Linked DNA regions of Homo sapiens: region 2 is linked to region 1. Evidence: fine-mapped expression QTL. A gene starts in region 1. The other region holds a variant in brackets. All regions are shown on one strand. Distances are from middle to middle. Region 1 holds the start of C16orf82 (chromosome 16 open reading frame 82). Region 2 has its middle 91 kb from the start of C16orf82.

What was found. PIP is the estimated chance that this variant, and not a neighbour inherited with it, causes the effect. A credible set is the group of variants that fine-mapping cannot tell apart.
Region 2: its variant is the best candidate, but not a certain one, in a credible set for the expression of C16orf82 in tibial nerve (GTEx, PIP 0.63).

Annotation. Positions count from the first base shown.
Region 1 is chr16:27,064,658-27,070,033 of GRCh38, reverse strand. C16orf82 (chromosome 16 open reading frame 82) reads right to left here and starts at 3,107. Exons shown (of 1, transcript NM_001145545.2): 1 at 868-3,107. The coding sequence starts at 3,038. The coding sequence ends at 2,574.
Region 2 is chr16:26,972,902-26,978,277 of GRCh38, reverse strand. No RefSeq gene overlaps it. Among named protein-coding and RNA genes, the nearest start is that of C16orf82, 91 kb to the left of the region's middle. The variant A/C (reference allele first, on the strand shown) is at 3,319.

The DNA of each region.
Region 1 (5,376 bases):
AACTCCTTCCTCAAACCACAACTCTCTGCCAAAACATCTTACCTCCCAGCAGATACAGTGGCTCTTTTTTCTTTGCTTTGGTCAATAGCTTTTTCTCCATTATTAGCAGTGACTAGCCTTTCTGTGCCTGTGAGTGAAGCAAGACAGAAACCATTGTGCCCATTTTACCCATAAGCAAGAAAAATGATACACCATGGAATATTATGCAGCTATAAAAAAAAGAGATCATGCCCTTTGCAGGGACAGGGATGGAGGTGGAGGCCATTATCCTTAGTAAACTAAGGCAGGAACAGAAAACCAAATACCGCATATTCTCACTTAGAAGTGGGAGCTAAATGATGAGAACACATAGACACATAGAGGGGAACAACACACACTGGGGTCTATCGGAGGGTGGGGAGTGGGAGGAGGGAGAAGATCAGGAAAAATAACTAATGGATACTACACTTAATGCCTGGGTTATAAAATAATCTGTATAACAAACCCCCATGACACACATTCTCCTCTGTAACAAACCTGCACATCCTGTACATGTGCCCCTGAACTTAAAAGTTAAAAAATAAAAAGGAAAAAAAAAAGAAAAGGGAAAGAAATACATTACATTAGTACTTATCCCTTGCTGGGTACTTGATATACATTTTCATGTAATCCACATAACCATCCTATGTATGAAATAGGGGTTACTGTCCCCATTTCCCAGATGAGGAAACTGAGGCTCTGAAAGTTTAACTATTTTGCCCAGATGGCCAGCACAGCAGTGGCAGAGTTGGTAGCCATGCCCAACTCTCTCCATGGTTCTTTAGTGTGTTTGTGGCCCACCCCTCCTGTGAGCTCGGCCGGGAACGCACACACAGACCCACACACATATGACCTCTCTAGACACCTTTTATTGTCTTTGCTGCCCCCTCAGCTTTCCTTCTGGTACCTAGTGGATGTCTTCACGACAGTCTCTGGCCTCTTTTCCTTTGTGGGCAGACTCACTTCAATGTCTGTGAGGTCAACCCAGGGAGGGGGTTTAGTGCCTCCAGTAAGAGACGGGCAGAGACTTCGGCTTTCCCATCCACCGAGACGGTGCTCACAAAATGCTCCAGAGCTTCCCCATCGCAGCTGTTCCCGGCTGGGTTGGGCTCTGTCACCATGAAGTGCTTCTCACGGCATTGTCCTGCCATCGTAGTCACTGTCTCAACCATCTGAACACAGGATGGCTCCTGGCCTCCTTTCTTGACATGAATGAGGCATCAGGAAGCCTTTGCTCCTGAGAAGATTCTGGGCTGAAGATGTCCAGAGACAGCACTCAAAGGAAAAAAAAAAAAAAAAGGACGCTTGGAGCTCTCTGGGATGGTGCCTCCCAAGTAGTTGGGATTACAGGTGCCCAGGCATGGGGATCCATTTACACCGCCCTCTAATGTTCTCACTAGACCTAGTCCCTGTGTGCCGGGGGCATCCCTGGCTGCTCCTGATGATCCTTCTCTGGTGACAGTCACTTAGTCTGGACTCCTTGGGGGAGCTGAGAGTCGTGAAGGTGCTCCGTGTGCACCGTGGCTGTCTTGCTAGTGCTTCTGCGGGCAGTGACAATGATGGACAGAGTGTGGTGCTGCTTGGCCAGGATGAAGTTTCATGTGGATGTGGCTCTCCACGCATGGCGCTCACTGCAGATGGTTCTTGATATGGACAGTCCCAACCATGGTTGCAGCTTGTTTCTTCTGAGCTCATCGTGGCTGGTGTTGGTTGCAGATGGCATTCATCATTTAGGATGGTTTCATCATGGAAGGTTCTAACTCGTGACAGTTCTTAATATCGTCAGCGTTTGCCATCGAGAACATCTGTCGCCACTGATGAGTTTTGGTACAGGGGGTCCCACCAGGATGCTGCTGACTACAGATGGTTTTGCCATTGATGGATCTTGTTATAGATGGCTTGTCACTGAAGTTCACAGTCGATGTCATTACTCTTCGCTGTTTTGACACAGGTGGACTCAGCATTGGTGAATCTTGATACTACAGCTCTTCCTAGCAACAGTGGTTCTCAGTATAGACAGTCTCCTCACTGACTGTGTTCTCAGGATAGGCGGTGCTCAGCATAGATCCTTCCTGCTACATGTGGCCTGCCCACTGATGCTTGTTGCTACAAATGGGATTACCCACTGATGGTTGACACAGTCAGTGTGTGCTTTTGAAAACACCTTTCCTACTTGTTTTGGGAATATCCACTCTGGGTGCAGCCTGTGTTTGCTGGGCCTGTGTGTTGTTTTCTGGGAGACTCTGGCTGCTGGAGAGGATTCTCACAAAGGCATGCACACCTGGGCAGGCTGCTCCCCCGTGGTGACCTGCTCACTGGTTTTCACGTTGCCGCCCGTCTTGTCCTCCTGCACGCTGGTGTGGCTGCTCTGCCTGTTTTGGGCACTGCCATCCAGCCGGACGCTCTGACGGCTGCTGGCCTGGGTGGAGGGAAGGCTGGCTGTGGAAGTCAGCAGCCCGCTGCTCACCTTGTAGGTGAGGGCACTGCTGCCCAAGCTGATGAAGCTGGCGCTGGACAGGATGCTGCTGCCGCTGCCGCTGCCGGGCAGGCTGGCCTCACTCTTTCCCTCCAGTCTGCTTGGTGCTGTGGGCGGGGCCAGTCAGCCGGCTCTTTAGAGAGCTGGGAGGGTCTATGGAGCCCAGCTGGCTGGTTTGGTTACTGGCCGCCTGGGTGTTGAGCCTTCTGTTCAGCCGCACTCTCCGGTGGCTGCCCACCAAGCTGATGTCGCTGCCCTCCTTGTCCCCTGCGTACCCGCTGCTCAGGCTGGCATGGCTGCCCTCCTCTGGCCTCGGGTGCTGCACGCTGGAAACATGACTCTCGCTGCTCTGGGTGTCACTGAGGTAGCTGCTGGACACTTTCAGGGGCTCCTGAGCCACTCCTGCATGGCGTGGCCACGCAGGGGACTGGAGCTCTAAGCTGGGTGACTGTAGGCTTGGCTCTCCTTCCTGCTCATTCTGGACAGAGGATTCCCCTTTTTCTCCCTCGAGAAAAATGGGGGGCAGCTGAAGTGGTTTATCCAGGGAGAGGGGGCCCTGGGAGGCCTCTGAATGTTGGCTGTGACCTCTCTGGGGAGAGGTGACTCCGTATATAAGGCTGCCCTTTGAAAACTCTGTGTTCTGAGTGGCTGGCTCAGTTCCCATGGTGATGGGGCTTGTGAGGTGAAGGCGGGTGTGGGAGGGAGAACAATGCTGTCCTGGCACCAGTGACATCAGTGGCCTGGCCTGGAGGGTAGGAGTGGGGCAGAAAGGGGCTCATGGCCAGAGGGGGTGGGTGTCACCCTCTCGGGAGCCTTTCTGAGGAGTCTGTGGCCAGACATCAGGTCAGGGGCCTCAGGCGTGTGTCCCAGCCGAGATCCTATGAGCCGAGTTTCTTCTCTCCCAAGTCTCTGCCTGCTTGCTGAGTGTTTCATTTTTTTATTTTTATTTATTTTTTATTTTCTGTTTGTTTGTTTTTTGAGATGGAGTCTCACTCTGTCATCCAGGCCGGAGTACAGTAGTGAGATCTGGGCTCACTCCAAGCTCTGCCTCCCGGGTTCAAGCGATTCTCCTGCCTCAGCCTCACAAGTAGCTGGGATTACAGGCGCCCGCCACCATGCCTGGCTAATTTTTGTATTTTTAGTAGAGATGGGGTTTCACCATGTTGCCTAGGATGATCTTCAACTCCTGACCTGGAGCTATCTGCTCGCCTCGGCCTCCCAAAGTGCTGGGATTATAGGCGTAAGCCACCGCACCCGGCCTGCTGAGTGGTTTTGAGGACAGGAGGGAATACAGCAGGCCGGATCATCAAGGCCCTGGCCTGGTCTGGCTCTCCCAACTTCATCACACACCACGCCCTGCCCCTTTCTCACCTTGGATGCTTGACCAGGCTGAGCACTCTCTTATTGCAAAAGGGACTCACAGCTGGATGCCCTGGACCCCAACACTATGAAACTGGGTTTCTGAGAAAAGCTTTTTATTGCAAGTTGGCTCAGAAGGAGGCAGGAGTCAGCTCAAATCTCTCTCCCTGTGCTGGCTTTAAGGCAGTAGTTTTATTAGAAAAGGTTTAGGGAGTGGATTCTGAGATTAGTAGGTTATTGGTGCAAGGAGAAGTGAGGTCTGCAAAGACCTTTGGCATGTGCAGTTACCTCTTCATGCCTCCTCATGGGTCCCATGTGCAAATTTGGAGGGAGTGAGTGTGAAACATGCAGTGGAAATTCAGGCTGTGACATCAGCAAGCTGGTCTTGCACTAACTCCAGTTGGCCATATTGCTTCCAGCTGATTGCAGCTGGTTTTGTTATAAGTGAAAGGAGTTTCAAATTGTTTCTTTTTTTATTTGCCTTCCTGCAAATTCAAGAATTTCTGTTAGTGGTTTCTTTAGCTCTTTGGAGCATGGTCTCATGATTTCATGATTTGATGCTCTTACCTGCTGCAGGGCCTTGGCACTGGCTGTTTTCACCCCTCAGGGTGCTTTTTTCCCCTCTGGCATCCTCTTTTTTTTTTGAGACAGAGTGATCTCGGCTCACTGCAAGCTCCACTCTTGTTACCCAGGCTGGAGTGCAATGGCATGCCTCCCTGCCTCAGCCTCCCGAGTGGCTGAGATTACAGGCATGCGCCACCACGCCCAGCTAATTTTGTATTTTCAGTAGAGACGATTTCTCCATGTTGGTCAGGCTGGTCTCAAACTCCCGACCTCAGGTGATCCGCCCGCCTCAGTCTCCCAAAGTGCTGGGATTACAGCCTGGCCTCCCCCACTCCCACTTTTTTTTTTGAGACAGAGTCTCACTCTGTTGCCCAGGCTGGAGTGCAATGGCATAATTTCCACTCACTGCAACCTCCGCCTCCCAGGTTCAAGCAATTCTCCTGCCTCAGCCTCCTGAGTAGTTGGGATTATGGGCATGTGCCACCTCAGCCAGATAATCTTTGTATTTTTAGTAGAGATGGAATTTCACCATGTTGGCCAGGCTGGTCTCGAACTTGCCTCGGCCTCCTGAAGTGCTGGGATTACAGGCGTGAGGCACTGCACCTGGCCCCTGCTGTCATCCTTTATGCCACTTCCTAATTGATGTTCCTTGTGACATGAATGAATTATGTACTGGTTATTTATTGCCAGGTCCTCAGCCAGAATATAAACTTAATGAGGGCAGAGATTCTGATTTCTTATTCTCTGCTCTGCCCTCAAGGCCCAGCACACTGCCTGATGCTCACTAGACGTTGATTTAGTGAATAAATGAATGACCCCGAGGTGTGCATCACCACCTAGGGAACTTCTAAAAAACATGTTTTAATTTTCTTTTTTTTTCACTTGAAAATAATTTTTTTTTATAGCAACGGAGTCTTGCTGTGTTGCCCAGGCTGGCCTCAGATGCCTGGCCTCAAGTA
Region 2 (5,376 bases), 92 kb after region 1:
CCGGCTTCAGTAGACATTTGTTGGAAGAGGGTCTTGTTCTGGCTGAATCATCATGCATTCTTGTGCATGGCATTCACGGGTGTTAAAGGTACAGTCCAGTATCATTGAGAATTCTGGCAGGAAACATGCAACATACCACAAGGAACGATTGAGGACAGTTTCTTGAAGGGACTATGTACAAGGGCCTGCGTGGGGTTAAGGGAGTCCCACACAAGAAGATGATGTTTTCTGGGACTAGCAACGATGGTGAGCTATTAACTACCTGTAGGCCTGAGACTGGGAGGGAAGGTTTAGCAAAACCTAAGGATGCTGCAGGCAATGGAGAGTCATCCAAGAGGACTTGTGGTTCCCTTTCCCTTTCCTTCTTTCTTTCTTTCTTTCTTTCTTTCTTTCTTTCTTTCTTTCTTTCTTTCTTTCTTTCTTTCTTTCTTTTCTTTCTTTTCTTTCTTTCTTTTTTTTTTTTTTTGACAGAGTCTTACTCTGTTGCCCAGGCTGGAGTGCAGTGGTGTGATCTCAGCTCAATGCAACCTCCACCTCCTGGGTTAAAGCAATTCTCCTGCCTCAGTCTCCTGAGTAGCTGGGAATTACAGGTGCATACCACCACACCTGGCTAATTTTTGTATTTTTAGTAGAGACAGGGTTCTGCCATGTTGGCCAGGCTGGTCTCCAACTCCTGAGCTCAAGTGATCCACCCGCCTTGACCTCCCAAAGTGCTGGGATTATAAGCGTGAGCCCCAGCACCCGATGTGGACCTGTGGTTTCCATTGAAGAAGTGCAGCCATACCAGTCTATGGCCTAACAGTGAGAATGAATACTCTGACCTCTCTTCTCCTGCCCTCTGATCTCTGGTGAGCATCTCACATCAGTTGAACCCAACCCGAAGCTAGAAGGTGAGGGAGCTCATTGACGTAAACTACAGAAGCTCTCCTCCTGGGGCATCAAGCAGGTGGGAAAGGATGGAGTGAGTCTGGAGGGACAAACAAAACTTTTGTCCCAAGACCTGTGACAGCGACCTGCTGTCCCCCAGGTGGGCTTGTGATCCAGGTGCTGACTTGAGCACAACCCTTGAAGATGTCACTTTGGGAGGTACAGACTGGGAGAGCAGTCTGCACTGCAGAGTCCAGCAGAGGGAGAAGCATCATCAGTAACACAGGCAAACAATGCCAACGATATTCACATGCCCATGTCCCCGTGGCCTGACCCCAGCTGGCCACTCCTCCCAGGGTGAGAACAATGATCAGACATACTCTGTCACTTGTCACTAGCCTAACCTCCCGACATCAACTCCCCAGGGACAAGGGAGCAGCATCTAGAACACAGTGGATAATTATTCTTCAAATGAATTGAGCTATCGGGGGCATCCTGGCTGAATCAATCAAAGCAGGTGGGGGCAGATTTCACAGAGCCAAGAGGCCATGGCAGCTCTTTGTGATAGATTCGTGTAAGAGGCCTCTTTTGCCACCACCCAACATTCATAAGCGATGCCTCCTCTCCATGTCGTTCAGCCATTTCCCATGCCAAATGAAGATAAATGTCAGAGGAGCAAATAGCCTTCAAATTGCTATTGAAAATATTTTGGAAAAGCCATGAAATGCCAAGCCTTTCTCCTTCTCATAAAGATTCTATTTATCTTCTGAGAAATGTTCCCCACCCTCCTGAGAAGCTAAATATGACTCAGTGAGGTTGGGAGTTAGTGCCTATGTGCTATTTCTTTCTTTCATTTTTTTTGAGACAGAGTCTCTCTCTGTTCCCTAGGCTGGAGTGCAGTGGCGTGATCTCGGCTCACTGCAACCTCTGCCTCCTGGGTTCAAGTGGTTCTCCTGCCTCAGCCTCCTGAGTAGCTGGGATTACAGGCACGCTCCACCATGCCCAGCTAAATTTGTATTTTTAGTGGAGACGGGGTTTCACCATGTTGGCCAGAATGGTCTGGATCTCTTGACCTTGTGATCCGTCCACCTCGGCCTCCCAAAGTGCTGGGAGCTCCACCCCGCCCAGCCCCAAGTGGTATTTCTAAGGAGGTGGCAATGCCTAAGTGGTGCTCCTTCCAACTGCGTGAATTTCCATTCCGTCAGCGTAAACTGACCAGCCAATGCCGTGCTTCCAAGGAGATTACTTCATTCAGTGTTTATTGAACACCTAGCTGGTGCCAGCCAATTACGTTCAGCACTTGGAACATGGCAGCAGACCAAATAGACAATGTTCTTATTCTCATAGAGCTTACCTTTTAGCATGTAGTGTGTGCAGAAACAGACTATAAAGAATAGATGTCAGGCCGGGCGCGGTGGCTCACGCCTGTAATCTCAGCACTTTGGGAGGCCGAGGCAGACAGATCACGAGGTCAGGAGATCGAGACCATCCTGGCCAACATGGCGAAACCCCATCTCTACTAAAAATACAAAAAAAAAAAAAAAAAAAAATTAGCCATGTATGGTGATGCGCGCACTCACCTGTAGTCCCAGCTACTCGGGAGGCTGAGGTAGGGGAATCACTTGAACCCGGGAGGCGGAGGTTGCAGTGAGCTGAGATCGCGCCACTGCACTCCAGCCTGGCAACAGAGTGAGACTCTGTCTCTAAATAAATAAATAAATACAATAAAAAATAAGAATAAATGTCAAGGCAGATGGTGATAAATGCTATGAAACCAAAGTACAGCAGAGCAGGCAGTGAGGGGTTAGAGGGCTATTTTAGATAGGGCAGTAAGAGAGGGTGTCCTTGTAACATTTAGACAGAGACAAAAGGGAAGTGAAGGAAGCAAAGCAGATATTTGAGGAATAGGGTTACAGACCGAAGGAACAGTCTGTGCAAAGGCTTCAAACATGGGTGGCCCTAGGGGGTTTGAATGGCAGCAAGAAAACCACAAGAATGGGAAAGTGATAGGAGCTAAGATCAGAGAGAGAGCTCAGAACTCATCACGGAGGAAATGTTAGGCTGTGGTTGAATTTCAAACTTTAATTTGAGTGAGACTGGGAGTTATTGGAGTGTTTTGAGCAGAGCTGTTGTGTAGTCGGATTATTCTGGCTGCTGGACTGTCATAGACTGTTGGAGGCCAAGGGTGGAAACAGTAATAGGAGTCAGGAGCTGGGGCATTCTGGGTGAGAGATGACAGTGGCTTGGTCCGCAGTGTAATGTCACAGGTAGTAATGGTAGAATCCTGGATATGTTTTGCTGATGGAGCTGATGGGATTTGCTGGTGGATTGGATGGATGGATGGATGGGCATGAGAGAAAGAGGAGTAAGAGATAACTCTAAGATTTTTGGTCTGAGAAACTGGTAAAGTGGAGGTGTTGGTTAGCGAGAATGGGAGACCTAGTTTGGAGA[A/C]GAAAATAAAGAGTTCAGCTTTGGCCAAGTTAAAGTTCGAGATGTTGGCCAGGTGTTGTGGCTCATGCCTGTGATCCCAACACTTTGGGAGGCAGAGGCGGGAGGATTGCTTGAGTCCGGAAGTTCAAGACCAGCCTGGGCAATATGGCAAAACCCTGTCTTTACAAAAAATACAAAAATTAGCCAGGCGTGGTGGCATGCACATGTAGTCCTAGCTACTCAGGAGACAGAAGTGGGAGAATCACCTGAGCCCAGGGAAATTGAGGCTGCAGTGAGCTGTGATTATACCACTGTACTCCAGCCTGGAAGACAGGGTGAGACCTTGTCTCCAAAAACAAAGTTTGAGATGTCTGCTGATGGCCAAGCAATGCTGCTGAGTAGGCAGTTGGATATTGGAGAGGTTGGGGTGTCAGGTGCACAGATAGTGTTGAGACCCACTGGGATCAACACTGTTTGGGATAAGTCAGGGAGGCAGAAAATTTGTTCAACCAATTTTCTTCAGAATTACCCTATGCACAACCTTTATGCATGCATTGGGACACAGCTCATGGCCTTGTATGTAAGACGGATGAGTAACTGGACAGTCTCAATCCAGTGTGATGAGCGTAGCTATGGAGGAACTCAGGGAGAGGCACCCGACTTGGTCTTGGGATGCAGACAAGACATCCTGGAGGAAATGAAATTTACATCAATACTTAAAAGAGACAAGGAACTAATATTTACTTAGTACAATCAGCCTTGGTATCCAGTATCCATGGGTTCCACATGCATGAATTCAACCAACTGTGGACTGAAAATATTTGAAAAAACTTGCATCTGTCTTGAACATGTACAGACTTTTTCTTTGTCCTTATTGCTAAACAATATGGTATAAAAACAACTTCCAGACCATCTACATTGTATTAGGTATTATAAGTAACCTGGAGATGACTTAACATATATGAGAGGATGAGCATAGGTTTATATGTAAATATTAATACTATGCCATTTTATATAAAGGTCTTGAACATCCGCAGATTTTGGTATCCACAGGAGGTCCTAGAACCAATTCCCCATGGATCCTGAGGAATGACCTCAGTATCCAGGTACTGTTTCAAGCACTTTGTATTAGTCATTCTTAAACTTTCCTGGATATTTATATCACTTGGGAAGAATTTAAAAATCCCAATGCCTGGGCCTAACCTCAGACCAATTAAATCAGAAACCTGGGTATGAAACTCAGGCATCAGTGTTTTCCAAAAGCTTTCCAATATTTCCAACATTCAGCCAGGTGTGAAGATCAATGCTATACTTGTGTTTGCTCATAGAATTCTCTGAACTACATCTCACGGGGAAGGTACCACTATTGCTAATATCTCCATTTTACAGAAGGGAAAACCAAGGCACAGTGGAGTCATACACTTGCTCAAGCTCATGAAACTTGTGATTGACGGAACTGGATGAGATGTCTGGATCCAGAGTCCACTTTCGTAGCCACTATTCCATCATGTGTTTCAAGAAAGGCCAGATGGGGCATTCATCAGAAGGATGTCATAGGAAAGAGTGTGTTCCAGATGGCGGGGTTAGTTGGACATTGGTAGAATATAAATAGATTAATGCAATGAGTATACAAGGAGTATAGAATATGCATATTATTTCATTCATTCATTCATCATTCATTTAACAAGTATTTGTTATGCATCTACCCTGTGCCAGGCACACAGCTAGACCCTGAGGAGGTTGCTGGGGAGCAAAGACTCATAAAATTCATAATCCAGTAGGGGAATAAGTAGAGGTTAAATAAGTAATCACAAAATGAATTGTATTTACTCCTTGTATTTGCTCATGGAATTCTCTGAACCACACCACATGGGGGAGGTACTGTGATTGGTAAATGTCATCCCCATTTTACAGATGGGGAAACTAAGGCAGTAATCCCAAATGATTGAGCAATAATCCAAAATGGATTGGATATATATGTATATGTGCAGTCTCTGTGTGTGTGTGTGTTTGTGTGTGTGTGTGTGTAAAATTGCAATCGTTTTGGGAAAGAACTACCTGGTGCTGTGAGAGACTTTG